Linked DNA regions of Homo sapiens. The protein of the gene in region 2 purifies or fractionates together with the protein of the main gene of each other region. This does not show direct contact. Each region holds a gene or a part of one and is shown on either strand. Other genes may lie near its edges. The genes, in order: DCLK1, LARP1, IPO9, SIPA1L1, CCNI2, SLK and LARP4.

Region 1 (3,231 bases), on a different chromosome or scaffold from region 2:
ACGCCAAGGCCCAGGTTTTCGATGGCAGGTTTTTGGCAGAGCTGCCAGCCTCGTAAAACAAGGTAATGGTCTTTAGGAAGTAATCACTTTAGCTATTGTTTCCCAGCAGTTGCCAGAGAGTCTAGAAAGGACCCAGTGACTTCACGACAGTACAGTACAGCAAAAGGGAGAACAGCAGCTGCAGCAGCAGCCTGTGGATGGCAGGGAAGGTGACTGCTAATTTTACAGGCACTTGGAGATATTCTGGCACCTTCATAGGACACCAGGGAACCTGCAGTCACTTTTGCTGGCTGACTTTTCAATCTCCTAGCATTGAAAAGCTCGACAGGAAAGAACTTAAATCCATTGTACAGTTTTGCAATTTTCTCTAAGGCCAATATTACACATGGAATGCCTAATGGGAAATTGCTACAAAAGTGGCAGCTAATTACAGGTTAGTGGATAAAACAACACCCTTCTCTGGAGAGCCTGTGCACGTAGGTTGAAGGATAAAATAGGGCTGAATGGTATTTGGTTTATTTGTATTTATCCAAGTCAGTGGCCCAGGCAGGAACGTAATATATGACAAGGGACATTTTTGAAATAGCTGTTTTTGAATTATGCTCATGAAATACACACTGTGCTATGGAGGACATGTGGGAAAGCTACACTCTGACCGCATGACTAATTTTTAAAGCCTTGCATAGAGAGAATTCCCCCTAAGAACACAGCTGGGCTATTCCTTCGTGAACTGAATGTGTCAATTGTGAATTGAACTAAGGTGAAATTTTACTCCAATATGGCAAATGAACTGAGGAGCGTACCCTTCAGCTAAGGTATTATGTAGTAGTTCATACACCAAGTACTATTATTTTATTAACTTTAAGAACATGTTTTACATAAAAACAGGCAACATCAAAAAAGCTCAGTTGATAAATGAACATAATATATCACAGATGATTTCATTCCACATTAACCTACATGTATCAGCTTAAACTGAAGGATTAGGGGGAAAAATTGGATCTCATTCCACCTTTAATTAAGGACACAAATTGTTTGAAAGTTATTTCATTAGGATTCTGAAAATCAAAGATTAACCTATGCCATCTGATCCATGCAGCAAGTGATAAATTCAGTATTTTCAAAAGAAATATTGAATTTTTTTCTTGAGTCAAATTGAAACCTTTCAGAAACTTGTTTAAATGCGCCAAGTCCCTACGCACCTTTTTAGTATGTATGAGCAAAATACTGTTGAATTTCACACTCAACTAATCCTTTAATAATTTTCTTTCAGCCAGAATGAAAAAGGCTAGTATTAATTTCCTAATAAAATTTTTTTTCAAAAGTTATCGAGGATATGACTATAACCTTGGACCAGTTTCAATTTCTTTTTATTTTTTCTGAGAATACACCAAAGATTAATGTCAATGGCAAGTGAGAAATTGTCCCTAGAGAACTATTCAAGGACTTTTTCTTACTACATTTGATTGGACTGGAGTGAACTGACATTATAGCATCTTTATCATCACCTTTAAAATTCTATTTTCTCTTAGTAGCAACAGTGAAGACTTTAGAACTATTACTTACTTTAAATTATTAAAGTATATCACAGACAAAATATTCAATTTTACATTAAAGCAACATTAAGGGTCTCAATTTCATTGAACAGAAACAAATGCTGAAGAAATTTACAGGTATGATTTAATTTTAGAGAGTGTTCTTTCTTTAGGGAACAAAATGAAACTAGATCTCTCATTTGTCTGTATGGGCAAGATATGGTAAACCTCATGATCAAAACACATGCCAGTTAGAAACTTGATCACAGAAATGATGCTCAGTGTTGAAACCCAACAATAAACAAACAAACAAAAACCCCCACTCTAACCAGAGGCATTTAAGCCTCTCCACTGAAGTTCCTGTTTCCCACCAGTTTACGACCCTTAATGTTACTGCATGTATGGTTGCATATTTGAGATGATTAAAAATAAAAGACTGGCTTAAAAGCACCTCCTCCTCTAGTGTGTAATTACATACAAACTAAAGATTCCTTCTGACGTCCTAGGAACCCCATTTGTTACCGTTTCATGTGTAAGCACCATTGAACCAATTTTTAAAGCACATTTGCAGTTATCAAATGTTTAGTGTGTCCTCAAGTTTCATTGATTTGTTTGCCTTTAAGCAAGAAAAGAGTAAAGTGTATTATTTTCCCCTGCTTCTTTTCATATCTGAATTGTCAAAAAATGTTAATTTTGGAAGTGCTTTTAATCACTATTTTCCCCAACAGACTAGAATGGCTCCATGAAATTTGACAATTAAGTAAGGAAATCTTTATCCCCAAAAGAAGCACGTATCTTACCCTCTAAACTGCATGCAAAGTAAGGGTCTGTGTGAGAGTATTTTCCCCAAACTCCTAATGGACATGGCAGACAATGTGTAGAAAAATCTGAGTTTTGAACTGACCAACTTCAAGTCTTTTAAAATCTTTGGGCAAAAAAAAATATCATGTAGCAGTTAAAAAAATTATTGACTTACAAATTATAGAAAAGATATGTTATCTACAATATATGCCAGGTGACCCATTAAATTTAAAAAATGTGTGCGAATGAGTAACTACATTAAAACTACCATCTTGGATCTTGGTGCTTTCCAAAATTCTGAAATCACTATTAAGGAGGGACCATACCAGATTTTTTTGTTGTTCTTTTCCTTGGAGAATGGGGAAGAAGTTGGAAAGAGAAGGAAGTAAACCTTCACTCTTTGGTACAGCCCTGTATAGCAAACTTCAGCCTGGGGCACATTTTTATGGTCAAATTAAAAACCTTTGAGAATAGGAGTTTATCATAGAAATGCTGACAGATCCTAACCCAGAGAAGGGCTAAGAGCAACACAGTAATATTAAGAAAGCTCTCCCTCAGCACGATTGAGCTTCAGCGCAAGGGATAGAGTTGTCTAGTGGACGCCCTTGGCCAGTAAACAACCATGATTTAATGTGCTTGAGACTTGGTCATATGGGAGCTCTGTGACCCTCTAAGCCAAATTTTCTTTTCTTTTTGTTTTCAACTGAAATATGCCTCAAAGGGTAAAGGATTGCAATTTTAGCCTTCATTCATGGATATATTGCTTTCTTTCAACAATATCTGATGGGCCTGTTAACTGCCACCCATGGGGAGCAGGTTGCAGGAAGGTCTCATTGAACACAAAACACCAAGTGTTTTCAGTAGTTTATTCACATTTTTTTTTCTCTGCTTATTT
Region 2 (3,729 bases):
GGGACTCTTTGTTCCATCCCTCCCCAGCATCACATCTCAGGGTTCGGGGCTGACCAGGATTCCGTAAGTCCACATGGTGCTGGATCATTCCTCCTTCACCCCCCTGTGGAAAAGTCTGTTCATAGAGGGGTTGTGGCAACCCTCCATAAGAAGCCTCATCGTTTTTCTTCTTGGCTGTCTCATAACACAATGCAGGCCACAGCCAGGGGATGGAAAACCTGGAAGCTGACAAGTGCGCTGAAATCCTGGCATTATGCTGGACTGCTGTTTTGTGGCACTGGCTATGACTGTCACGTCTCACTTAAGACACAGGGTGGACATGAACTCAAGGCTTGTAGAAGCCCCTGCCTTAGGCAGACTCCTCGAAGCCCAATGGCAGAACCCCTGCCGAGGTTTCATGTGCACATTGAGTGCAGGGTTCCTCCGGATCTGGGGGAACTCTACCAGAAACCCATCCTTCACACCCAATAGCAGTAACCTAGATGGAAGACCAGCCAGTATTTTGCCTTTTCAAGTGTTTATTTTTATACATTTTTTTGTATTAAAAAGAAAAGCATAATTACCACAAATTACAAAGGACTAAAGCAGGACTAGAATAATGAATGAATCACTTCAGCCTGGAAAGCAGATACTCTCAATAATATTAATGTTATAATACAAGCTCATTCAAGTATTTTACATTTTTTTGTCCTTTTAAATATGATATCCTAGCACATAGTAAAGATAATGTACTACGAGCGTAAGGTGGAACCTTCTCCGCAAAGCCAGATGACAAGTTTTCCTCTCCAGTGAGAAATGGGCTCCAAGTTCTTATCTTCTCTGCCATCAGCATGGCTGAAGGGGGAGAGGGTGGGTGTTAGGGAAAATCCAGGGACCCTTCCACACAGGAGGTACTCTGGGGTTCCATTCAGGAGGGTGCCAGATAATTCAGATCACTCTACCCAGGCTTTTTGGCAAAAAACAACCCTCACCCTCCGTAACTAGTCATCTTCCTTGTCCCTCCTCCTCACTTCCCTTCCAGGGCCTTCTAAGCAGCTTACTTTCTTTTGTAAAATCAATCACCAGGAAAGGGGAAAAAAAAAAAAAAAGAGCTACAATGGAACAAAACAAAAACATTTAACAACTTTGACACAGGGGCTCAGCACCTCTATCTGAGCCCCAGGGGTCCAGGCTGGGGCACGGCTGGATGGCCCTTCTCTACTGGTAGTGCCTTTGCTCCCAAGTGCAGGAAGAGGGCTAAAGAGAAACCTGCCCCTTAACAGGGCTGAGGCACACAGACCTGCTGATGTCTGATGCCCAGAGGTTATGTTGGCATGGACCAACCTTGGAAGGGATAGGATGAACAGAGGGATCTGGGCAGGCTGTTGCTTTATCTCAGGTCTTGGATCCCCATGGGACGATGGTAGGTGTGAAGTGGTTAGCCCTGATGGCCCCTGCCACTTCTGGCATGCTTGTCACAGATACATCGGTCCTAAATTCAAGTGTCTTCAGAAAGTGAAGATGTAAACTACTCTTTGCAACATTAACTCCTAACATGTTACCAAAAACAAAAACAAAAACAAAAACAAAAAAAAAGGAAAGAAAAGAAAAAGCTCCCCTACCAACCACCAGCCGATGTTGAGATGAAGTCCTCACCTCCCTGCCCCAAAGGGGCTTCCTTTCAGGGATGTCTGTGAAGAAGATGGCAGCCCCCTGGCCTGGGAGTAAACTCTAGGTAATAACAGCCTTTCCCCATACCCTAAGGCTTCCTTGTGCCCCAAACCAGCAGAGGAAAAACACTGAGGTTTCTGTGGTGCTGGATACAGTACAGGGCTGCGTGACCTGAAGGAAAGAAAGGAAAGGAGAAGGGGGTCCAGGAATCCAGTGTCCGGTACAATGTGGGGCAGGCACCAGACTGGGCAGGGAAAGGCCTCGGATACCACCATCATAGCAGAGACCAGACGCTCATCCTTGGTTTGAGACATGAAGTCACAGGAACTGAGATGGGCTTCCCACATACCAACCACTGGGAGGGCAAAGGTGGGGAAGGGCACAGGCTAAAAATTAACAAGGTGCCCAAGGTAAAGGGCAAGCCCTTGTCAGCCTGGGATACTGTCTCCTACTCCCAACCTTTGGGCCCAACAGAGGAACCAGTTGAAAAGGAGGGCCAAAGACATTGCAGTAAGTAAGCAACAGGACAATGAACTCCATGTTGCCCAGATCCCACTGAGAGTGAACGTGCAGTCATGCCCATAACCGACACACATCCCAGTCCATGTGGGTCAGTCCTTCATCACCCTCCCTGCCTTCTGACAACAGCAGACTCCAGCCATTCCATTATCATTCACAGCCCAACCCAAGCAGTCAGTGGCTGAAGAAAGAGAATCAGGTATACTCTATGTCCACATATACCTTCCTGCCACAGGGCTTCACCAACTGGCAGGATTCCCCCCAGCCCCCAACTCCTCCTCATCCCTTGTTCCCAGGCGGGTCAATTGGAGAGTGAGCAGAGATAGATGGCTTGCAGAAGGGTATGCAAGATGGGGAGACTCCACCAGACCTTAGGGAGAGAATGGCATCTTTCTCCACCTTTTAAGAGAGACAGAGCCTCCCTGAGGTCTCAAAGATTTTTCAGGGCAACACAAGAAACGTTTCCAAGCCTCAGCTGCAGGTGTTCACCTTTCCACTCTGGGGTGTGAGGAGATGGTAAGCTGAGGACAAGTGTGTTCCAGATGCAGGCCAACTCTGTTCTCCAACAGTTTGAACCAACTTGGCCTTGGGGTTCCAAGGGTAGGATGAAGGGTGTCACGGCAGGACGGGGCCTGGCGTGAGGCAACAGCAAGCAGAGCGAGGACACAACAGTGGCAGCAGTGTACAGACACAGGACGTCAGCTTCAAACGATGCAACAGCAGGGATATCTTGGGCACGGCTCTGATTCGAGCCACTCCCAACTCTCTTGCCTCCAGGATGGAGGCACTGTACATGCAACAGTCCAGAGAAAGATTCTAGCCAGTCCAAGCCCAGGCACATCCAGAGAAGGTGGGAGCTCTTCGGGTTGACTCCACCGAGGAAAACAGGCATTTGGGTATTTCAGATTCCCGCTCCACAATAAGGCAACTTTTAAAAAAATATTATTTCCAAAAACAAAACAAAAATTCCAAGGGGAGGGGAAAGACATTACTTTCTGTGGATTAGGTGGGGGTTTTCTGATTTTTTTTTTTTTTTTGGTCTTTTATGGTCGATTTTGTCTTTTTTCTTCTTTTTTCCCCATTTTTTCAAGGATGGAAAGGTCAGAGAAAAATAAAATAAAACATCTTTCAATAGTCTTTCCTGGTAAAAGCAGCGTCTCTCTGGGCTGGGGAGTAAAGGGTGTGGGGCAAGGGGAGTGGGGAGAGGCTGAAACCTTCCCCCAAACCCCAGTTTTAGATCCTTTGGTTTCCTTCTCCCAGAAGATGGCAGAAGGGCATGGTGGGAACAGCAGGGAGAAAATATGGTGATGACAAACCCCAGATGATCAAGGGGCTGATGCTCCTGGGGCCCAGAGGTACCACCAGAGCCTTCTATGAGACAGTGCTGGGCAATGGGGGGGCCCGCAGGGCCTTCTTGTGGGCTGCATAGTTGGCTTGAGGGGGAGCAGGAGGTTAGGGGTGGGGACCAGGGTTGCAGCCTACTAGCCTCGGGCAGGGCTGCAGAGTGATTTTGGTAATCCAGATGAACTATCAATAATTTAAAACTTGATATATATATAT
Region 3 (4,207 bases), on a different chromosome or scaffold from region 2:
GCACTCCAGCCTGGGCGACAGACTGAGACTCTGTCTCAAAACAACAACAACAACAACAACAACAACAACAAAAGCAAAAAACACTAAAATGTGAAGCAACACCAAAGAAGTGGAAAGTAGTTTGCAAGAATGGCTCATCTTGCTCTGTAGGGCATTCTAATAGGAGGAACCATGTCCTGCCAGTTTCATCAGGCCAGATAGTTGGCTAAATCCCGGCTGGAAAGCTGGGTTCTATGTTTTCATGTAAAGAAGGGTTGAGGCTGGTAAAGAAGCAGCTACTATATTGCACCATGTTCAGAAAACATCTGAGAGATTCAGACAGAGTTTAAGGTGGGAGGTACTCTGAACCCAATGTCAAAGATAACTTGTTAAAGGCCACAAGAGGAAGAAAGCAGACCGCATCTGAGGGAATGGACCGCCATTCTCCACCTTAAAACAGGTACAGAAGGGGGTAAATCTCTATAGTTTTTTTGATAGACATTAAGGAGCCAGACTACTTAAAAGACACAAGCAGCCTCCAAAGGGTCCGAAGCATTGCACTAAACTCCAGAGACTGATCCAACCCTCTAACCAAATCCAAAACCTGAGTCATATGCTCTATTACTAGATCACCAATATCAGGTCACTGCATCGATGCCTTTCCATACTTTTCATTCTCATAGTCTGCCCAACAGCACATTACCAGTAAGTTATGGGGGTCGGGGGGCAGTCGATCTATTTCTCATCAGTGACTTAGATCAAAATTCTGTACTTCTGAAATTTAATTTTTCACTTAAAGGCTCAAAAAGATGCCAGGTGTGGTGGCTGAGGCCTGTAATCCCAGCACTTTGGGAGGCCTAGGTGGGAGGATCGCTTGAGTCCAAAAGTTTGAGGCTGCAGTGAGCCATGATGGCATCACTGCTCCAAAGTCTACACGATAGAGCGAGACCCAGTCTCAAGAAAAAAAAGATGAATAAAGTGAGGAATCAGAGTTTCAAAAAAGACCTCGAGAACTTTATAATTGACTTTGCCCAGATGAGACCATGGCATTTGGCTAAAGTTGAAAAGATCAGAGCAAAAGTGGAGTTGTTGTAAGACAGTTTAAATACAAGTCAAGGTCCACCTTTCATACAAAGGTGCCAGACATGCATTTGGAGCACCAGGAGCACTGGGTACCACTCAGGGAAGGTTTAGTTAAGATGAATTTGCACCAGACTCTCAAGTTTTATTCAGGTGACAACTTGAATGTGATGAGGTTCCTTTGCTTTGTCACTCTTCCTTCCTCATACTCAAGGGGGACAGACATTAATGTGCATAAACGAATTTTATTTAGAAGCCGCTAAAAATTCCTTTAGATTAGTTTATACATGGTTCTCAAACAGCTTTCTCCTAACCAGTGGTTTCTCCTGTATAGATCTGATATTTTATAAAACAATGACAATTACAAGTGGGCCTTCAAAATGGTCCTTAGCCTGTTAGATCCCAAATCTTAACATATTTCCAACAGAAGAAAATTTGTTTTCAACAGCTCTTTCATACTGTGAAAGAATGTAAACTAAATTTAAGAGAGATTTGTTCTAAATTCTTTTCAATAGAAATACGTCCAGTAGGAGAGCTAACTGAAGGTTTTGAATATGATGGGTGTGTGATGGGACAATTTCCCATATCTCTGATGAAGTATTTAAGTGGTGGTGGAAATATTCCTGAGTTGGGAGATTCTGAGGATTTGGAGTTCCAGTGAAGCTCTGACCAGATATATTTCTTACACAAAGACCAAGAAGATTTCTCCTCCTGTTTCTGGATTAAATTGTTCTTTGTGGTAGCTACACTGGACCCGGTGAAAGGCTCACGCGGCAGGAAATTGATAGAAAATCTCGAACCAATGGTTTATTTTCTTCTCCATCACTTTAAAGCACACAATAGAGGACGGAGACAAAGAATCAAAAACAAAGGATGATCAGTTCCTCCAAACAGAAATGCACAAAGGTATTTAATAAGGGCAAATTATTTTTAAAATAAACGTTAAGTATGGTCAGGACAGTGAAGCAATCGCATATGCATTTAATTTCTGGGAAAACACGAAGAGTACAAACAACTAGCTAGGTTTATAACTCAGAGGCAGAAACTTGTTTGATGACATCTATTAAGCTTTGATAGCCGCCTTTTCGAGGCCCTACCCTTCACCACTCCTACTAATAGCTCCCCCTACTCTTATCCCAGTACAATCCAGCTGGTGAAGAGAACAGCGAAAGACTTTGGTCCTGGACTCAAAAAATATTTCCCCGACCGCGCTACTTCCTCCAACAGCACCAAGTCTAGCTCCATCTCCGTCCCCTGCAGATTCTAGGCTCCATCTATCTTTTCAAGTCTCCACCCTCCCTCCCCCACTCCCAGGCTCCACCTCCCCCGACCCTATCCTTCAGGCGCGCCTCTCCTCTCTCGGACTTTCACAACCACCAGCGACATCAATCTCTCGCTTCCTGCTCCACTTCTCGGCGCCCACATCTCCAACTGGCTCAGGCTCCCCATGTCCCCAGCCGGTACGGAGCTGCGGTCAGCGGATTGTGCGGCTGAGCCATCCTCGTGACGGTCCCGCCTCACTCACCCTCCGTCACCTCCAGCACCTTAATCTGTTCTTCAGCAGCCGCCCGCACCTCCTGTACTGGGGATAGGATCCCGGTGAGCGTATCCACTAACGCTTCCTTTAATCCTTGTGCCACTGGACCCGGCAGCCCGGAGGCCGCACCAGCTGCCGCCGCCGCCGCCATCTTTTCTCCCCTCAGCCCGCCAGCCCCGCGGCCGGGACCCGCCACCGAATGACGGCCCCCGCGCGCGGCCAATCCGCGAAGCCGCGCCTGCGCACCAGAGGCGGGCGGGAGCGGGCGGAGGGCGGGGAATGAATCTAAGCCTCCAGAGACAGCGCCTCCTGCTGCCTGAACGAGAACTGCACCTTTCTCTGCAAGGATCTCTGGATTTGTGTGAAAACTGAGCCCCAGACAGGTTAAGGGGCTTTCCTAAAGTTGCACAGTAAGTTAGCAATCTCATTTGGAATAAAGTTCATGATATATGACTTTATATTCATGCATCTTTCAGGTGTTAGGAGAGAGGAGGCGGGATGGGAATAGATGTAGAGGGCTTTAAGGAGAGAGGTCTGGGTCACAAATAGCCCCTATTTTAAACCACATTCTTTTCCCCCCAAACACTGAAAAAAAGTTGGCTCAAGTGACTCTCTTCATCTTAGCCTCAGGAATCCAAAGAGGGGGGAAAATAAACTAAAGCAAACTGGGAAGTGGAAGTGGGAAAACCACGGCCCAGTCCCTTGGTTTTCCAGCCTAGATGAGCCCAACCTCAAAGCTGGGAAGTGGCTGGGCAGGGGAGACACCGGCATGTGAAAGGGAGTTTCTTCCAGAGTGAGTGTTGTATGTGACTATTTGAGAATGAATCCTATTTGTTGAAAATGTATAAATTTTTTTCCCTGAGAAATTATGGCTGGACATTTAAGGGGTGCGAGAACAAGAGCAGTTTGATGATATGGTTGTCAGCAGCTGGTCGTGGGAAATGGCCTACGGTGCAGAGCCGCTCCTGAATAGCGGAGCAGGTGGAGAGGATGAGCGCTCCAGTGAGGTGTTAAAAATGCAGGGTGTGGCGAGGCGCAGTGGCTCACGCCTCTAATCCTAGCACTTTGGGAGGCCGAGGCAGGAGGATCGCTTGAGCCCAGGATTTCGAGAACAGCCTGGGCAACATAGCGAGACTTCGTCTCTACAAAAAAATACAAAAATTGCCCAGGCGTGGTGGCGTACGCCCTGTAGTCCCGGCTGTTCGGGAGGTGGAGGTGGGAAGATCACTTGAGCCCAGGAGGAGGAGGCTGCAGTGAGCAGTGATTGCGCCATTGCACTCCAGCCTGGGCGACAGAGTGACATCTTGTCTCAGAAAAAGAAGAAAAAGCAAGATGTAAGCCAAGGCAGGAGGATCACTTGAGCCCAGGAGTTCCAGGCTGTAGTGTGCTGTCATCACACCTATGAATAGCTACTGCATTCCAGTCTGGGCAAGATATACAGACTCTGTCTATAAAAAAAAATAAAAATTAAAAAAAATGCAGGGCAGAGTGGCAAGCATGTAGTGGCAGAAAGGATAGAATGTTGTTGGAATGGGAGGTTCTAGAGCAAACAGAAACAGGTATTTTTTAGTGAGCTGTTCAGGTTATGTGCCTTCAAAATGGTTCCCAGGA
Region 4 (2,617 bases), on a different chromosome or scaffold from region 2:
CTCCTCCTGTAGCCTCAGGTTGTCCTCTCGCAGGTGCTGCACCTCCGCCTGAAGGTGAGCTTTGTCTTCTTTTTCCTGGGAGGCAGAGTGAAGTAGAAAAGCTAAGAGGTGTTGGCCCCACCTTGCCCAGCTCTTCTGAGTAATAGCTATGGACCCGTTTTGATCTTTTGTCCATTTCTATTCTTCGTTCCTCCAAACACCTGTCTAAACGGACTGGTATCAGGTGCTAAGACACTCTAAGCTCAGGGAGCAGGGCTTCTAGAGAGATTCAACCCTGCAGGATTAGCTCTAAGTAATCCTGGAATGTAAGTACATTAATGTGTATTTTAACATCCTTGTTAGTCAGGATTGTCTTAAATTTTAGACAATTGTGTTGGTGGCTGATGTCTTGATATATAGTCAAGGCCACCCAAAAAACAAAACATTCAGTTCTTTTGGTGCAAAAGCCCCAATAACACCGACTACATGGGGGTCTGGGCTACTGACACATTACACAAGGAGTGGGGAGGCCGGGAGAGGACCCAGATGGTGCTGGCTGAGGTTCACAGCCTTTCACAAATTATTGAACAGTTTTTCTGTACACCGGACACCGAACGCCTCCTCATGCTGTGTGTTCCAGTGGCAACTGAAATCCCTGCATCCCCAAACACATGCAGGCACCGGGAAGACACCCACGTCTTATTTTACCATGCTACTTAGAAAGGGCTCTCATGGTTCAAGGGTAGTTTGTACAGACTGGACAATTTGCTTTGAGAATACATGTTTACCTTCTTCAAATCTTCCCGAAGCATCTTCAGCATACCTTCCAGCTGGTCCACTTTAGAAGCCAGAGTGGGAGAGGAGTCTTTACTGCTGGGAACAAGAAACAAAAGACCATGTTGGCAGGGGCCTCCATGGCTGGGTTTGTTTTTTTTTTTTTTTTTTTTTTTTTACTCTGAGGAGGCTGTATTTATAAAATGGTTTTCAATGTCAAATTACTCAGTATGGCGACCCAATGAGTATTTTTACTTTAAAAAAGAAAATGGTAGTCTTAAAAAAAGGTAATAAAAGCTTGAACTGCAGCCAATCAATAGCTTCCTTTGTTAAAGATGCTGCATCCTCACGACTAAAGAATGAAGCACAATAGTGAAAATGGTCTCTTTGGCAGCACAAGAGGTACTTTCTGGCAGATATAATTGTCAAACAGTAAAATGATTCCCAGGGAGGCTCTGGGATCTCTCTAGTGGGCTTTGACAGAGGAGTTACTCCCCTGTGTGTGGGAAGGAAGCTGGGGAGCTGATGTGATAGGCAGGTCGTCTCTGGTCCCAAGTGTGTGGTCTTAGCTACTCATGCAATTGCAGCTAAGGTATCATGCCTACATCTTAAACCACTGGTCTAAGTATCTTGTTAGCCTAGGCTTAATGTCTTAAATTCTGTCCCAGTCTGATCAAAAAACCATTTTCTTCTCATTTTCTCATGTTTTCTTTTGTTTATGGCACGCTAATCATGCCGTGCTAGTGGAGTACCGAAAGAAGTGTGAGCTGGGGTACGGCAGGCCAGCCAGCGAGCTAGACAGACGGCATGGCTGGGCACGCTCTCACCCCGAGGGTCCTATGGCTGAGGAACTGACAACTTTTCTTGCCACACTCTCCTCTACCTGAGTTCAAGCTGCCAAATTTTCCTGATTCCTAGCCAAGCTATACATCCTCAGGGGCACACCACAGAGAACCCAAAGTCTTCCATCGGGAAAACATGCAGAGCCTCTTCCCAGCGCCAATGGGAAAGAGCTAAGTGACTCCGAATTTTCTAGGTCACGGAGTAAAAGGTATTCTTTACTTTAAAAATAAAGATTCAAGTTACAATTCCTGACCTCAGATGAACTGTGTTGATGTCTTCTGCTAATCCTAAGTCTACAAGAGGCCCCAGGAGGCAAAACCCACCGTGGTGTACAGTGTGGCAAGGCTGTGGGCTGATGGAGTGACCATGACCTCCAATCTCTAAGGCAGGAAGGCCAATGAAAAGCTGACAATGAATGGGTTTGAGAAGGGACATGGTCAGCTGCAGTCCATAACCGCATAGTATGGTACGGCAGGCTGGTCCGATTTTGGGTGGGCTGAAGGCCACGGATGTGGTAGAAAAGGGGCGGTGCTGGACAGACACAACGAGGCTGGGGCCGGGCAGCAGTGGTATCCTTCGCAAAGCCACTGCAGCTCATCAGGACTGCAGCAACGCTCAGGAGCATTCTGTCTATTCACCTCCATTTCCATTTGTTCAGTCCATGCTGACCCAAGAAAAGAGCCTGTCATCACCCTCATCTGCTGATTTTTTAATAATCCTTTCACAGGAAAACAGTCTTGGCTCACTCACACTTCTCTCTGTTGGAGGCTCCTTCCTAACGAGGCACATTTGGGGCTTGCTTCTGGGATATGCATTTTTAAAGTTCTCAGCAGTCAGCCTGATTGCTGCTCTCCTCACCCCAGCAGTGCCAGAGGTAAGTGCGGCCTCTCTCCTATACTCATAACAAATGATCCCCTATTCTTGTGCCTTCTCGTTGAGAGCACTTCCTTGCAGACTTGTTCAGAGAAGTCCTCAATGGCAAGCCCCAGTTTATCTGTGCCATTTACTTCAATTGGCTTTC
Region 5 (2,239 bases), about 22 Mb from region 2:
GCATCTGCCTCTGAGCTTTTTCCATCTCCATTTTCTTCAGCCTCATTCCTTCACCAATCCCTGCCTTTCAATAGCTGGGGTCAAAAGGAAAATAGATTGTATCCATATTTCTCCCTGAGAAATGTTTCCCAATCTCTGAGTTGAGGTGGGATAGGAGTTCCTAATGTCAGAAAAGAATATTAGAGGGAAGTAGGATGGGACCTGGGGCCCCACGGCAAGCTTGAAAAGCACATAAGATTTTTAAAAATCCACGAGTGGGACTTCGGCAATACAAAAGTGAGCTTCCCTATAGAAGAGTTCTATCATTTATAGAAAGCCAGAGCAGAAGGTTGTCTCTTACCCCAGTCCTAGGACTCACATGTCTACCCTCTGCTTTCTCCAAGAGGTTTGAGTTGGATCAGCTCTCAGAATCCAGCTCACATCCATAGCCACCTGGTTAAGCAGCAGATGTCTTCCAGCAGTTCCCCTAAAGCCTGGGATGCCTAAACTGGTATGGGCCCTCAGGATGTCCTTCTGCCTCATGCACTGTGGTCCCACTTACACTGGAAGGAAGGAGGCAGAGGGCACTCAACGGCCACCACTGGAAGCTGTGAGCAGCATGGCCTCAGCATCTCCATCTGTAAAATGGGTTCTGGACTAGAGGAGAGTTCTTGATATGACCTAGGAGATAGTGTTCCAAATGTATCTGACTCTCGCAAGGCTAAATGCATGGTAGCTCAAAATAAGACTCATACAGGATCGGAAGCAATTAAAGTGTAATTTTAACGAAAGCACCAACAAGCAAAAGTGTGTCAAGAAAAAATACAGATGTATACTAACTCTATAATATAGACAATTATAGTATATCTGGCCCTTGACCACTTTGCACCTAGTAAATCTTTCCCCTCCCACCCCATGGCTTAGCACATTTACACAAACACACCAAAAAAAAAAAAAAAAAAAAAAAACCATAGTTCACAGTGGAAGACTTCACAAACCACCTCTGAATGTGTGGCTCAGTCATTCATGCCCCCAACACAACTTACACAGCCCCAGCTGGCATCTTTGTCAGCTGCACTCCCCTGCTTAGAGAATGGCTCTGTGGTAGCACAGCATGAGAGAGGCAGCCGGCTCCTCCTCCTGGCAGCACTGTGGTTGGAGCAGGCTTGGCCTCAGAACCTGCTCATCCCAACAGAAAGCATTCAGAGCTGTGCCTCCCATCACAGGTGTTAGCCTATAATACCCATTCATTAGCACAAAATCCCTCTAGTTAAACTAATAACTGAAACCACTTTGCTTAAGAGTAACAAAGGAAAGATATGCCTAAAGCTTGCTCAAGTTACATTAAACAAAGCATACTTTATAATCCAGTCCTTGTAAAGGGAAGACATAAGTCATAGCCATGGTTGGGTAAATGCATCTGCAGAGACTGTCCCATGTGAGGAGTGGCAGGCAGGGTAGTTGGGACTGGAAGCACCACATATGTGTTTGGGATAAGCCTGGGAAGTTGGAAGGACCTGGCCAGCTCTGGCAGGTAGAGCAGCAAGAACTGGTCAGAGCTAGCCCCAGCCCTTCAGCCCTGAGCCAGGCCTGCCTCTTGGTTTCATATTCCAGCGCTCCCAGGGGCCAATGCCAACCCTTGCTGGAGAAGGAAGGTAAAACAAGCTGCCATTTGAACATTCATTCATACTCCCTGGCTTCAGGCCCAGAGGAGAAAAAGGGAAGACAGGGTCATAGTCTATCAGACCACCCTGACCTCTACTGACCTCAGCCTGCCTTTCCCCTCTCCCCTTTATTTTTTTTCCAAGGGCTCAGTTGGGAACTTTTTCTCAGTTGCTCTTCCAGAGCCACCTTCCCTTTTTACAGGATTCATAACAAGCCAAAGAACTCATGGTAGTCCAAGCAAGGAGGTTTCACACTATGCTCTGAAAGCCCCGGGGTGGAGGCAGAGGGGCTAGTTGGCAGGTGACACAAAGTTGTCTGTGCAGGAGGATGACTGAAGACTTCTCAGTTGCTGCATTACAAGTTCCTTGCAGCAGCTGTACTGCATATCACCAACCTGTATTAGAATAGAGTGGCCATCTTCAAGCAGAACCATCATACATTCTAAGAAATTGGCAATTGAGTGCCAAAATGTTAGCATGAAGCAAGTTCAGGAAGGTCCAACCACCCAACTAAGGACCACTAATCCTACCATCTCAGGGACATCCATTTCCAACCTCAGTAAAGTTGTCATTAGTCTAACTATGCATTCCATCCT
Region 6 (3,500 bases), on a different chromosome or scaffold from region 2:
GGCTCATCTCTTAAAAAAAAACTAAATTGACAGGTCTGAGGGTAGCTGGAAATCTCTTTTTTTTGAAAAAGCTCTCAGGTAATTTTTAAACACTGCCAGCACTGGGGATCAAAATCTACTTAATCAGTAACAATAATATCGACAGCCCCTCCCTCCATCTCAGGGCCAGAGATATATGTATGATTTTAGGGTTACTAGAAAGACAGTGCCTCTGCTGCACCCAAAAGTACCAGATTTGGCTGCTAGCTATGACCTAAAATTCTTTATTAAGACTAAACTCTTCATTCCTCAACTGGTATCCAAAAACATTTAAATGCAAACAGAAATAACAGACATATAAGACTCCTACAAATACATTTTGGTAAACTAAGTGTTCAGGGCAGATACTTACTGGGTGTTGATATGGAAGAAAGGGTTAGAAGGCAGAGGAAGCAAAAATGGAATGTGAAAATGCTAAACTCAAAATGCATCCAAATTTTAAACAGTTTCTCTTTGGCACCTTCCAATCACCTTTCTGCATCCTCTCCTCTTACTGTTCTCTTCTCCAAGCTTCCAGGATCCTCATGCTCTTCTTCCAAAGTCCAGGACTATGGTACCCTACCCAGGATTCCTCTAAAATCTAAAGTTGGCAGACTCCAAAAAATACACCTATCTACACCTTAACCTCCAAACTTCACATTTCTTCAGCTCCTACTAAAAGTTCAATAATTAATATCTTCTTCATTCTTATACAAGTTATTTGCATTTTTAAAAGAGGCTATTAAGTCAGTGAATGAATTTCAGAGTGGTGGTTATTTCAGTCAGTGAAAGAAAGTAAACTGAAAAAAGAAGAAAATCCTAGGAATACATGTAAGAAAATCCTAGGAATTTGGGGCAGATAGGCAGACTAATCACTCATGCCCTAGAGATCCATCTATGTCAGTTTTCTTAGGTTGTTCCTGCTTTTCTGTCTTCTCTTCTGCTACTATCAACCCAGAGGGTCTAGGAAGTATTTTCCAAGGGGCAGCCCATGGATCACCTGCATCAGAACTCTGTGGGATCTTTTTTTTTTACAAATAGTGATCCTTGGGACCCACTCCAGACTTCTACATAGCCGCTAGTAACTCCTAAGCACACTAAAATTTGAGAATTACACTCAAAGCTCCAAGTGTTCTGGGCTTTAGTGTTTGTTTTGTTTTCCCCACAATGGTTCTCATGGCAGTAGCAATGTCTGTGACTGTATGGGCCAATGGTAAATCAAGGATTGTTTACACCCTAAATGTGCTTAAAAAGACATCATTCTTTCAATTTCTAATTCTCTCATACATTGTTGATTCTTGCTAATGTTGCATCTAGATATGTCCAATAAAGGAACCTAATCACACCAAGCAACCATATTACACTGTTTATCTGCATCAGGTCTGCAAAAATAGGTAGATCCTACCACAAAATTTAAAGATTAGATCCACAATCTCCTTAGTTCTTTTTAATTGCTTTCATAGGCTGTAAGAATTTATATTGTTAATACTACATTAATTTAATGCTGTTTTATTTTCAAGACATCAATTTCACATAAACTCTGAATTGAGAAAATGGCAAAGGAAAACCCAAACAATGACTCATGTACACTTACTTGTAAAGATATCGATCCACTGTCTTTAGTTTTACTTAGAAAGCTAGAGATGGATAAATTCAAGTCAATACTGCTAGTATCAGCAGTGGAACCAGTGCCTGAATCATTATCATTTTCCTTTGGATTCTCAGATTCTGGTGGCAGAATAGTTTCAGTTTTTGATAAAGAACCTATTTCTTCTTTATTTTCTCCACTGTCAGAGTTGATATTAATACTGGGTATTAGAACAGGCTGAGGTTCAGTGGGCTGTGAAACTACAGTAACTTCAGGCTCTTTTTTAATTGACACTGGAATTTCTTTTTTCTCTTTATCTATCTGAGTAGTGACTTTAGAAGCATCCTGAACTTCACTTCCTAAAGCCTTTTGGTCAGTATCAGCCACCACACTTCTGACCTCCATTTCTTCAGTGCTACTTGACTCAGTGATTTCTTCACCTTCAGTTGTTCCTGGTTCCTCATTGATGTCCATTATGTTCTCTGAACTGTTTATTGCTTGTTCCTTATTTTTACCTTCTTCTATTTCATTCATTTCAACTATTTCTTTAATAGGAACTTCCTTAGTACCACCAGCCTCAGGACCCACCATGGGCTTATTAATTAATTTCTGGCCTACTTCGACCACTTCTTTCCCATCATTACTCTGCGTATCCTCAGCACTGTCTTCATCCACTTTCTGAGCCACATCTGCTGCCTCACATGTTCCTATCACATCACTTGTATTGCTGATCACATCTTTTTGAGTTTTGTCGTCTTCCCCCAATTTCTCTTGGGTGTCTTCCTTTGTAAGCCCAACTTCACTATCAACTGCCTGAATATTTGCCTCTTTTTCTCCAGTCTCTTGAGAAACTAAATCTACTGTTTGCAAAATAGTATCTTTAATTTCTTCAGATTTTATAAGCTTATTTTCAAACATCTGTTGCTTTTCCTGATCCTTTTCTTCCTCAGATTTTAGATTATGTTCAATATTTGTTTCTAAGGTTATCATTATATTATTCTCTTTTCCTTCACTGACTGAATTAATGTCCACAGTTTCTTGGTCTTCTGTGTCAGGCAGATTTTCAAGCTTGGGCCTCTTCTCTCTTTCATTCTCCTTGATTACTGCTGTTCTGTCATGGAGTTCAGTCATTGCTTCTAACTGAGCATCGGTAATATGTTCATTAATATCCTCCACAGCCTTTTCAGGTTCATCAGTGGTGGGTTTTTCATTAAGAATTTTGCTGTTGAGTTTATCTTCAGAGTTACTACGTTCTGTTTTTTCTGAGACAGACTCCAAAATACAAGCATTTTGTGAAAGTTTATCTTCTTCAGAGCTGGCGATACTAAGGTCAGAAGATGCACGCTTACTTGCAGGTATTGGCTAAAAAAGATTTAATGTATTTTTAGTGTTAAAACATGACCTTAGAGTGACCAAAACAATGTTTACAGACCTACAGTGATTTCAGATCTTTATTCAGTAAATGTTGCTGAATTTAAAGAATTAACAATTCTTCTCACAAGAAATATAACAAAAATGGGCCGGGTGCGGTGGCACACACCTGTAATCCCAGCACTTTGGGAGACCGAGGAGGGAAGATCACTTGAGGTCAGGAGTTCGAGACTAGCCTGGCCAACATGGTGAAACCCCATCTCTACTAAAAATACAAAAATTAGTTGGGTGTGGTGGCGCATGCCTGTAGTCCCAGCTACTCGGGAGGCTGAGGCCCAAGAACCACCTGACACCGGGAGGCAGAGGTTGTAGTGACCACTGCACTCCAACCTGGGTGACAGAGTGAGACTCCATCTCAAAAAAAAGGGAAATATAACAAAAATGTGCAGCGACGAGCAACCTTGCTACTAATCTTCAGGTCTAAATTTAAAGGTTTTGCGTTGCCACCCATCAATCCTTAGAT
Region 7 (3,500 bases), on a different chromosome or scaffold from region 2:
TAGTTTTTTGGGAGGTTTTTACTCTGCTTGTTGTTGTTGTTTAGAGACAGGGTCTCGCTCTGTTGCCCAGGCTGGAGTGTGGTAGTGCGATCATAGCTCACAGCAGCCTCCAGCTCCTTGGCTCAAGCAGTCCTCCCCACTCTGCCTCCCAAGCAGCTAGGACTACAGGTTGCATGCCACCATGCCCAGCTTTTTTTTTTTTTTTTTCCTTGTAAGGGATGGGTCTCACTGTGGTACCCAGGGTGGCCTCGAACTCCTGGGCTCATGCGATCCTACCCCCTTGACCTCTGAAAGTGCTCAGGTTACAGGTGTGAGCCAGCACACCTGGTTATTTTGACGTGTGTTTGTGTGTGGCGGGGGGGGTTTTACCTTGTTTACTATGGTTTTTATACCATGAAAACGTTTTTATTATTTATTAATTAATTAAAGCTGTCATTTTCTTTTCTTTTGCTCTACTGATTCTACTGTAGGCAGAAATAGTATAGTCATGTAAAATATATGTTAAAATGTAAATTAAATGTATTTTTTAAAATATACACTTAATTCTTTGTTGCTATAATGTGTTCCTCTTCTAGGCAAGGATAAAAGCCATCAATACATTTTTTGCTAAGAATGGTTATCGATTAATGGATTCTAGTATCTATAGTCACCCCATTCAAACTCAAGCACAGTATGCCTCCCCAGTCTTTATGCAGCCTGTATATAATCCTCACCAACAGTACTCGGTCTATAGTATTGTGCCTCAGTCTTGGTCTCCAAATCCTACACCTTACTTTGAAACACCACTGGTAAGTGAGATCCTTACAATAAAATATAATAATATTTTTAATTTGAGCTGAAATTTGAAGAAATCAGTTGGAGTGGGAGCTCATTTATGTTGACATTGATGACTTTTTGGCCTTTATTTTATTTTATTTTTTGTATTTTTCGTAGAGATGGAATTTTGCCATGTTGCCCAGGCTGGTCTCGAACTCCTGTGCTCAGGCAGTCCACCCGCCTCAGCCTCCCAAAATGCTAGGATTACAAGCCACTATGCCCGGCCACTTTTTGGCTTTTAAACAGTGATATGGATATCTAATTCTCCATACCAAATAAATGCATATGACTAAGAGGTGAGCTATTAGAGCGCATAATTTTATTCCATAAAATTTGCTGAGTGAATTGAAAGAAGAGACTGGATAACTTTTGCGTGATTTTAAATGCATTTTAGTGTTGCGAAATGTCAGACCAGACATTCTTTACTAAGTTATGAATTGTTCATAAATCCAGTGGTACTTGAAGTGAATATTGCAGAAATGAATCAGTAAAATATTTTAAGATATTTTTGGCTTGTAAAAGATAAATTCATAAGCTCATTAAGGTTCTTGTGACCCTCACACCAGATTTTACCTTTGCCATTAATATTGTTTAAACATACATTTTTTTCTAGGCTCCCTTTCCCAATGGTAGTTTTGTGAATGGCTTTAATTCGCCAGGATCTTATAAAACAAATGCTGCTGCTATGAATATGGGTCGACCATTCCAAAAAAATCGGTAAGATAAAAACCATAGCTGTAATGTATTTTAAACAATTCCTAATGGATCTTAAGGCATTAATAGCAATGTTTGTTGTCAGGCTCAGTAATAAGGTTTGGTGGATTTTTTGTTTGTTTTGTTTTTACTAAGTGTATATGAACAGTTTAATCTAGAATTCGTAAAAACACTTTGACCTTTGAGTTGGTAATGCATGTAACAGACTTGGGATTCAGATTTTTTTTAATAATAAAAGAGAATAGAAAAAATATTTCATGACACCAGTCTCTGACAAATCTGGTGACTAATTTCCATTTAGTATGTTAAATGGGTAGCATTTTAGAGAATGAATTCTTTGAAGATATAAATGTTGTTAACTGAATTGTGTAATAAATGTTGGGATGTATGTTATTCAGGTTTTTAAAGGATTTTTGAAATGACACCCAAGAACTACAGTGCACAACAGACAGTAGCTAACATTTATTGCACATTTAATATCACAAACTCTGTTCCTAAGGGCTTTACATATTTTATCAGTTACTTTTTTCAGAACCCTTTATAGGTGCACTTATGTCTACTTTACAGATAAGGAATCTGAGATGTAAAATATCATGTCTGAGAACACACAGCTAGTAATTGGTAGAGCTAAGATTTGAACCTAGGCAGTTCAACTCCAAAGCCCGCACTTAAAGCACTATGTTCAGGATAAATTATTAAGAATCATAGAAACTATATGCTATCATAAAGATTGAGATGTATGTCTGAGGTATTTTTCTTTATGTAGACATCAACAGATAATCTCAATATTTGGTGTATGTTATGGCTTGTTGTTGTTGTTGTTGTGGGGGTAGAGACAGGGTCTGTTTATGTTGCCTGGGACGACTGGTCTTGAACTCCTGGGCTCAAAGCAGTCCTCCCACCTTGGCCTCCCAAATTGCTAGGATTACAGGCGTGATACTATGGCTTTTAACACAGTATGAGTAACCAAAGAATAAAGGACTGACATATAGTCATTTCGATTTATTTAATAGTTTCACATTTATTACTTCTCGTTTGCTGTTTTGTGAGACTCTTGGTTTTTGAGGGTTTTTCCTAATGGTTTATTTTCAGTGACAGTCTTTTGCCAGATTCGATTCTTCTAATTATTTCTTTTGGAAAGGAGACCATCTGGAGTATGTTTTTCCAAGATGACTTCTAGGAACTTAGTCCTTTTTTGACAGGTTTTTCTGAAACTTGTTTTACTGGAGAAATGAGCCCCAACAGAATGAAAAAATATTCTTCTCACTGGAAACATTGTGTACTACTCTTTAATAGTCAGAGTTTTTGGACTATTCTTGACAGACACAATTGGTTAAAGCAATTGAAGATCATTTTCAAGTGTTAGAAAAATTTTACTACTAAACATAAACACAGGCTGAGGTGGGTGGATCATCTGAGCTCAGGAGTTCAAGAGCAGCCTGGGCAATATGACGAAACATCATCTCTACCAAAAATACAAAAATTAGCTGGGCGTGGTGGTGTAGTGCATGCCTGAAGTCCCAACTACTCAGGAGGCTGAGGAACGAGAATTGCTTGAGCCTGAGAAGCACAGGTTGCAGTGAGCCGAGATCATACCACTGCACTCCAGCCTGGGTGACGGTGAGACTCTGTTATTCCCTGCAGCCACGCCCTCTCACCCCTCCCCGCTCCCCCCTCCAAAAAATAAAGGTACTGATATTTGCAGTTGCTTGACTCTGAAATACTTTACTTGGCTCCATGGTTATTTCTTTATTGTTACCTTTTATCCGTTGCATCTTTTTGGTGACAGCCAGGAATGACAGTCAAGTTATCTTTACTTATAAGGAAGTATACCTATGGTTTTGAAAATACATGGTGTGTTTAGTACATTTTTGCATGTTACTTAAAACCACTTGTGTACAGTTCTTTTCCATATATTTGACCAATACAGGTTGGTAATTTTTAATTACAGAAATAATTAGTGAATACTT

Evidence for each region.
Region 1: the proteins of LARP1 (region 2) and DCLK1 purify together in Homo sapiens (affinity purification with mass spectrometry, with the first as the bait; one large-scale study listed by BioGRID). This does not show direct contact.
Region 3: the proteins of LARP1 (region 2) and IPO9 fractionate together in Homo sapiens (co-fractionation; one large-scale study listed by BioGRID). This does not show direct contact.
Region 4: the proteins of LARP1 (region 2) and SIPA1L1 purify together in Homo sapiens (affinity purification with mass spectrometry, with the first as the bait; one large-scale study listed by BioGRID). This does not show direct contact.
Region 5: the proteins of LARP1 (region 2) and CCNI2 purify together in Homo sapiens (co-immunoprecipitation; one large-scale study listed by IntAct). This does not show direct contact.
Region 6: the proteins of LARP1 (region 2) and SLK fractionate together in Homo sapiens (co-fractionation; one large-scale study listed by BioGRID). This does not show direct contact.
Region 7: the proteins of LARP1 (region 2) and LARP4 fractionate together in Homo sapiens (co-fractionation; one large-scale study listed by BioGRID). This does not show direct contact.

What each region holds. Positions count from the first base shown.
Region 1 is NC_000013.11:35,768,152-35,771,382, forward strand, and holds the end of DCLK1 (serine/threonine-protein kinase DCLK1), read right to left. Parts: 3' UTR 501-3,231; downstream 1-500.
Region 2 is NC_000005.10:154,814,377-154,818,105, reverse strand, and holds the end of LARP1 (la-related protein 1), read right to left. Parts: 3' UTR 501-3,729; downstream 1-500. UniProt on the Homo sapiens protein: RNA-binding protein that regulates the translation of specific target mRNA species downstream of the mTORC1 complex, in function of growth signals and nutrient availability.
Region 3 is NC_000001.11:201,827,750-201,831,956, reverse strand, and holds the start of IPO9 (importin-9), read right to left. Parts: upstream 2,801-4,207; 5' UTR 2,748-2,800; coding exon 2,585-2,747; exon of another isoform or gene 2,398-2,584; intron 1-2,397. UniProt on the Homo sapiens protein: Nuclear transport receptor that mediates nuclear import of proteins, such as histones, proteasome and actin. Serves as receptor for nuclear localization signals (NLS) in cargo substrates.
Region 4 is NC_000014.9:71,736,476-71,739,092, reverse strand, and holds part of SIPA1L1 (signal-induced proliferation-associated 1-like protein 1), read right to left. Parts: intron 2,471-2,617; exon of another isoform or gene 2,324-2,470; intron 853-2,323; coding exon 768-852; intron 76-767; coding exon 1-75.
Region 5 is NC_000005.10:132,752,665-132,754,903, reverse strand, and holds the end of CCNI2 (cyclin-I2), read right to left. Parts: exon of another isoform or gene 2,039-2,239; coding exon 1,934-2,038; 3' UTR 501-1,933; downstream 1-500.
Region 6 is NC_000010.11:104,001,640-104,005,139, reverse strand, and holds part of SLK (STE20-like serine/threonine-protein kinase), read right to left. Parts: intron 2,969-3,500; coding exon 1,613-2,968; intron 1-1,612. UniProt on the Homo sapiens protein: Mediates apoptosis and actin stress fiber dissolution.
Region 7 is NC_000012.12:50,452,885-50,456,384, forward strand, and holds part of LARP4 (la-related protein 4), read left to right. Parts: intron 1-575; coding exon 576-788; intron 789-1,429; coding exon 1,430-1,533; coding exon of another isoform or gene 1,534-1,537; exon of another isoform or gene 1,538-3,500. UniProt on the Homo sapiens protein: RNA binding protein that binds to the poly-A tract of mRNA molecules. Associates with the 40S ribosomal subunit and with polysomes. Plays a role in the regulation of mRNA translation.